Linked DNA regions of Homo sapiens. The protein of the gene in region 2 purifies or fractionates together with the protein of the main gene of each other region. This does not show direct contact. Each region holds a gene or a part of one and is shown on either strand. Other genes may lie near its edges. The genes, in order: KSR2 and RBM27.

What was found.
Region 1: the proteins of RBM27 (region 2) and KSR2 purify together in Homo sapiens (co-immunoprecipitation; one large-scale study listed by IntAct). This does not show direct contact.

Annotation. Positions count from the first base shown.
Region 1 is NC_000012.12:117,454,961-117,458,783, forward strand, and holds part of KSR2 (kinase suppressor of Ras 2), read right to left. Parts: 3' UTR 1-3,823. UniProt on the Homo sapiens protein: Location-regulated scaffold connecting MEK to RAF. Has very low protein kinase activity and can phosphorylate MAP2K1 at several Ser and Thr residues with very low efficiency (in vitro).
Region 2 is NC_000005.10:146,283,515-146,286,896, reverse strand, and holds part of RBM27 (RNA-binding protein 27), read right to left. Parts: intron 2,276-3,382; coding exon 2,165-2,275; intron 951-2,164; coding exon 867-950; 3' UTR 1-866. UniProt on the Homo sapiens protein: May be involved in the turnover of nuclear polyadenylated (pA+) RNA.

The DNA.
Region 1 (3,823 bases), on a different chromosome or scaffold from region 2:
ACTAAGAAATAGAGACACATCCTTCACTGTGTGGAGGCAGGCAGAGACAGAGACAGACACAGAGACAGACAGACAGAGAGAGAGAGAGAGAGAGAGAGAGAGAGAGAGAGAGGTCTGTAGAGCCAGAGAGGGATGCAGAGCAGGCCTGAGGTGGCCTGAGTACTGGTCTGACTCCAGCAAGCACAAAACTCTCCTCAGACATCTTCCCCCACAGGACACCAAGGCTAACAGTAGGAACCAGAGCATGCTGGGGAAAGAAGTCAAGGTCTCCACATCTGAGCCAGGGCACCCTCTGTTTGGAGATGGAGACTCCAGGGTCCCAAAATCAGGCTTTGGGGAAAGCAGGGAAAGGCAGGCAAGTGCCAGGGGGCAGGATTTTAGCCACTTGCAGTTACCCTCAATAAATCATGATCTTGCCTCTGAGTCCACACATAGGCTGTTCCTTCTGTCTGACACACCGTTCCCTACCATTCTACTCAAATTTCAAGACAGGGTTCAGAAGTCTCCTCCTCTGAGAATCCTTCCTGGAGGGTCTTTCTCTGGGTTGGGAGCTCCTGTGGGGCCTCGGGACCCTACTGGAACTCCTCCCTCTCTTCATCGGACTCCTAGTACCCTGAAGGCAGCACCCACTTTTCTCCATTTTTTCCAGAATCACAGGAGGCACTTAACAAATATTTACTAAATGACTATATAAAATGAAGATTTGGGGAATGAAGGGACAAGGTTGCTCCACGCTGGGCTCTGCTGAGGGTGTAGTGAATGGGGCTGGGGACATGAGCCTTTGAAATACAAGCAAAATTTTCTTAGAATCCTTCGGCTGCTCAACTGTAGGCATTTGAAATCCACCAATGTACCCAAAAATAGGGCTATGAGGAAACTAGAGGACCGGGGCCCAGAAGCAGTGCCTTGTGGAATATGGGACAGCTATGGGAGCTCATGGAGAACAGAGACTCCAAATTGGATGCCATCTTGGAAGTGGAGTCAGAGAAGCTCATGTGACAGCATGCCTGACATGCCACCATATGGGCTTCTGGCCTCTGTGCTCCAAGCCTTGGGGCTTTATGAGGATTGATTCCAGACGCAAAGTCAGGGTGTGTTTTGATGGGGTGGGGAGTACAATCTATGATATTCCTTGATAGGTTAGGACCGCAGAGGCCCTCAGGAGGAGATAGACTTCCGAAAAGAAGGAAGAAGGAGCCAGGCAAAGATTTATGCATCACACAGTTGGGCAGAAGCCTGACCAAGGACAGCCCCTCCCTTAATGCTCCAGTCGAGCCAGGACTGTCCAGATAGCTTTGAAGGGGCAGGGTGTGCAGTGCTCCCTAGAAGGCTGGCTAGGAGGGAAAGGGGGCCGGGGCAGGGGGCCTCGGTGTGGCAGGGCAAGTACCTTAGAGTACCTTGATGCCCATGCTGTAGCTACATAGCAGTTACTTGAACTTACACAAGTTCATATGTACCCATCTAAACATTATTACTTGTAACACATGTAGAAAAATAAGCAGAGGAAAATGGCTAGAATCTTACAGGACCAATACATTACATTTGTTGTCCAGGACGCACTTAAGCTGCCAATGCCCCAACCTGGGCAGGGCTGTGTTGGGGAGAGGTTGACCCCATCTAGGGCAGAGCCCCAGCCAACTCAACTGTCTTCTTGGAAGGTGTCCCAATTCCCAAAGCAATTTTCCAAGATCTGGTCTTTTGCAGTGCCCGACTCGTCCTCTCTGTTACCCTTCCCAATCCTGGGACTGCCGGAAGCTCCAGGGATTTGATTCTAGGGGTAAAACAGCTGGACCTACAGAGGCCATCCTCACCCACTGCCTGTCTCCATGCCCAAATCAGTCACACGGGACTGGACAGAACTGCCACATCTTGTCCAGACTGTCTATGTTGTTGCTTCATTGCTACCAGAGACAGCCATTCTAACCCGGCCTGACTCTCTTCTTCACAGTGAACTGGGAATTGCAAGGAAGGTAGAAAAGGCCCTTCACTATCTGGGAGACTTTCCTTCCTGGGGAATACAGAAGGGCTTTCCCTGAGTAGCCTCAGAAAGCAACACCAAGATTGCCGGATGCAAGTCTCAAGATTTCAGCTCAGCAAGAGGATCTGCTTCTTAGAAGGGCTGTGGAAGGATGGAGAGAATGACTGGAGATTTCAGCCCCTGTCCGTGCAGACGGTGAAAGGCAAGTCCACATTCTCCTTACCTAGACAGCCTTCAAACCACTGGTGATGCTAACTAGTGCTTTAAAAACCTATTTCCCTGCAATGTTCACTTAAGGAGTCCCCTCCTTGTGTTTTCCTGTTCTCCTCTGATTTCCTTTCTCCCATGGAAGGTTGCAGATGGCAGGATGCTGGATTTGAATCCTAGTCGCGTGGCCTGGAGACAACTCAGGGGACATCTGGCAATGTCTGGAGATGGTTTTGGATGTCACACTTTGGATGTCAACTGGAGGCTTTTGAAATCCACCAACATACCCAAAAATAGGGCTATGCTGGAACTAGAGGACCGTGGCCCAGAAGCAATGCCTTGTGGAATATGGGACAGCTATGGGAGCTCATGGAGAACAGAGACTCCAAACTGGATGCCATATCAGAAGTGGGGGTCAGAGAAGCTCAGGTGACACCATGCCTGACATGCCACCATATGGGCTTCCAGCCTCTGTGCTCCAAGGCTTGGGGCTTTATGAGGATTGATTCCAGACAGCAAAGTCAGGGTGTGTCTGGGGATGTTTTTGGATGTCACCAGTACCAGGTGCTACTGGTATCTTGTGGGGAGAGTTGAGGAAGCTGCTTAACATCCTCCAATGCCCAGGACAGTCGCCACCTCAAAGAATTATCTGGCCCCAAATAGCTCAACAGTACTGAGGTTGAGAAACCCTGGCTTAGAATGAACATCTCTTTATCCTTCTCTTCCTTTAGATCTTGACTTAAATGTCACCTCCTCAGAAAGACCTTTGTCAGCAGCTCTCCCACAGTATACCCTCTCCCATGTTTCTGGTCCCCCGTGAGTTTTCTTTCCATAGATCTACATGAGTTGCAAATTTATATATTTGTGGTTGACTTGCTTCTTGTCTCTCTTCCCCATTGGGCTTTAGGCTTCAGAACAGGTGAGACATTGTATCACTCATCACTGAATGCCCAGGGTCTAACACATAGTAGATGCTCAACAAATCACCCACTGAATGAATGGTTGGTGAAGAAATCTCTGTCAGAGAGGACAGAGGTTCACTGAATTCCAGACAAACCCAGAATGCCAGCATCTGTGTGAGGACACAAAGACCTCTCTTCTACCTTGTTCATCCTGTCGCCCACCACTCAGAAAAGGCCTCTGGTTATTGTTGGCCTGTATTTATTTCCTCCTGATATCCTGGTACCAGCCTTTCCAAAATTCTCACTGTAGTGCTGGAGGTCAGGGTATTTTTAAACTAGAAGAACTAGCCAAGCTGGTTTTTTTTTTTTAAGTGGTGGAAAAGAAAAACTAAGATTTGTTTTTAATCATTAGACTTTCAAATTTAAGAAGGCGCGATGCAAATAGCATGTTGGCATAAACAAGTGCTGCCCGCTCAATGGAGGGAGGGAGCCTTTCTTCTGAGCTAATTTAAGCTAAATACATGGCAGCTATTTTTCATCTCTACAATTGTGCAACTTTCTCCTCAGTTTACAATACAGGGGAGATATTATCGGGCAGAAGTTGGATGGGGGATAAGTGAAGACGAGAAGGAAAAGAAGAGGCAGTGGACAAGAAGGTACTCTCAGCCACCGAGCTGGTGATTAGAGGTATTTCAAGAGCTCAGGAGTAGAGCTGGTGGTCCACTAGGACCTCAAG
Region 2 (3,382 bases):
ACTTATATCAATGATGACTAAGTCAGGCCTATTAATAGAAAGGCAAGAGGAAGAAAAGGGGGACGAGAAAGGGGCAATAGGTGAAAGCCTTTTACATTCTGAGTTATAAAAATTTTTAAAAAGACCAGCCGAACCAGCGCTCACTAAATATCAAAGCAAACTAAGAATCAGTAGCAGGAAAAGTCCAGGAGTTCATATGACAAGAGAATGGAAATACTATAGAGCTAGCTACCATTGCTGTAGCATTTAAGAACACACAGTTTGTTGTGATTTTCACTGAACTAGTACTACCACACATAAAAACCATGAAAAACAAATTTAGACTGAATACAAATTGGGCTCCTCCAAAGTAAAAAAAAAAAAAAATTAAAATTAAAATAAACATATTTTTCTTCCAAGACCACTCTTGAAAGCAAAAGGGTATTTTAATTACAAATATTTCCTACTGTCTGATGACCCATCCATAACAACTGAGAGTTAAAAGATTACAGGTGATTTTGACATTTAATTAAATTTTATCAGTAGATTATAATCCAAAATAAAATTTCTGAACACCCTGTCATTTACATCATAATCCAACACCAACAGCAACAAAAAAAAGGTGGTGTGGAAAATAAGGCTCTAGAGATTATCCATGTCATTGCTGTGGATCTTCACAACTGTGTAAAAGTCACTAGGCCTTTGGTGCTTTAATATCATGTACAGTTATGAGATGTGTTTAAATAGCAAACTTGCTGTTCTTGAACCTACTGTGTTGAAAAGAAAAATAAAAAAATTTTTTTTGGCTCATTGACTTCTTTTAAATAATTTTTAAAAGTTGTTCTTCTAAACAATATTCCTAAAAATTATACAGCTAGCATCAGATTTCATCTTCGCCATGAGCGAGACTCATATTCATCTTCATCTTCATCGTCATCATCAGGCAAAAACAAATCTGAGGTTTCTGTTTCCTGAAGAAAGAGAGGTTAAAATCTGCTTAGTGGCACAAGAATGGTAAGTAAAATACTTTTTAGGCCAAAGGACAAACAGGCTAGTATACAAAGCCCAGGCTAGATTTCATAAGGGATGCATGCAAGAGTATCTTTCAGGGCAAAAAAAAAAAAAAGCCCAAAATATTTTTGTAAATGAATATGAATTCTTCTCCCCTGCTAATTTTGCTACTTTTAATAGGAGATTTCTACTCTAATATCATCAGGAAAATAATGTGGACATTTAGTACAGAAAATTTAAAAAAGACTATGAGATACATTTCTGATAAATTAAAATTAATTTTATTCTATAAAAAATTAGGAAAATAAATGACCAAACACCTAAATCTTTGTTTTTATATCCATCCAATTGTTTGTGAGAGGTGAATATACTAGCTTCCCCATGACACTGATATTCCAAATCTTATATAAAAATCTAAAATCTTAGACAAAGTAGATGTATCTGCAAACACTACCCAAATACCATGACTTCTGTTTTTCTTTTAATCTAGGGAACATTTCTGCTTTTGCTGTGTAAAATTACCTATATAGTGAGAAGACACTTGATCAAACTATAAATGCTAGCTAGGTATCTTTTAAAACCAAGATTGTCATATAAATCAGGAAAACCTCGCAATATAGCCTAAGTGTTCACTAAATAAACTAATGATAAACAACAGGAGTAAAAAAGCAAAATAAATTCTCATATATTTTAAGAAGCTGATTATTCAGTACTTTTATTATTTAGGTCTTTAGTTTTCCAATTCTCTCCTCTATGTTCAACTTCTGCACACTCTGATTTTAACCAATTGTACACAGAAGGAAAATAAGAAACTCAAATCTATTACTATGGAACTTGAATAAACAAAAAGTGAAACCAACCAATTAAAGTTTAATTCATTTATGTAATCTCTGACTTTATTCATCAGAATAAAAATTTCTAGAGCTCAAATAAATCCAATATAAATGTAAACAAAAAAGAACAGTCTTTCCTATATCAGAAGAAAATAACCCCTAACACAGCTTCTTATATCTCTAGACCTGTTTTAATTCTCTAATAAACATCTAAACGGGTCTTAATTTGCATGCATGAAAGAAAAACCCAGCATTTTTTAATTTATACTATTTAATATCATAAAAAATACATAATTGAGAAGTGATCTAATTCAACTCTTATTTCCAACCACTAAATTTACCTCCTCCTTGACTTCTTCTTCTTCAGTCTCAGTGGATATAGATGGTACCTTGGGCTTGTGCCATGATATCTGTAGCCGACGGTCTTTAAATTTTGGCCCTTGGTTTGCGGTCTAAAATATATATTAGAAGAACATACAAGTTTGCACTCAAATTTACTAATGATTTCTGCAAATTCTGTGTTATTTAAAAAGTATAACATAGGGCAGGAGAGAAATCTGTTAAGGTGGATCTACAATCTCCAATGAGAGCTAAAAAAAATAAAGTCCCTTTTAATTAGAGCAACTATATGTTCTGGTTTGCCTAGGATAACCCATGGTTTATATCTGTGTCAGGTAAATGTTAGCATCTGTCTTGGTTGAAGAAATAATTTTTTTTCTAAGTAGAGTTGCTCTACTTACAAAAGTCATGATGAGGACAAGAAATATTCTTAATACAGGTATTGACCTTTGGCTTTGATATCTACATATATAGACTCAAACCTTAGAAAAAAGGTGAATCATCTGCTTATTCATCTCACTGCATCTCTCACAGCCCCACCTATGTTGGATAAAGTTCTTCTTATTTCCACTTCTGAAACGCTATACACTAATAAGCACCTCCCAGCTCATCTATGCATTCAATAAACATTAAACAAATGCCTAATACTATCCTAACTCATAAAACTGCTCCATTTCAAATGTTACTTGGTACTAATTTTTAAACATTTTTTTCTCCCCAGCAAATTCCAATAGGGGAAAGCAAATTTTAAAGACAAAGCAACACAGACAAGGGACTAGGGATCCAAAGTTTCAGAAAAGTAGAAGTTTAGCCATCCCTATAGCTTTCCTATCAAAGGTCCTCATTTATAGAACTGGGGGTTCTAAAAAACATAATAGAAGAGATTCTTTTTTATTTGGGCTTTCATTCTAGTCTATCTAGCAAAATCATTGCTAAACCTCCTGAAGCATTTGCCAAATGTTTCCATAAAACACTTGGAGCATAGCATGGTGAGAATGTACATTAGAGCAGACTCATAAATCCATTACTGCCTGCACAGACATCGTCCTGTGTTCTAAGGGAAAAATTCCCACCATTCCTTGAAGGGTCTAAATGCTCATAACCTAACACCAAACATTATGACTCATGGGACATACCAAACTGATGTATCAAAATAGCCCTACCAAATATAGATATGTACCTTTTTTTTTTCTTTTTGAGACAGGGTCTTGCTCTGATTC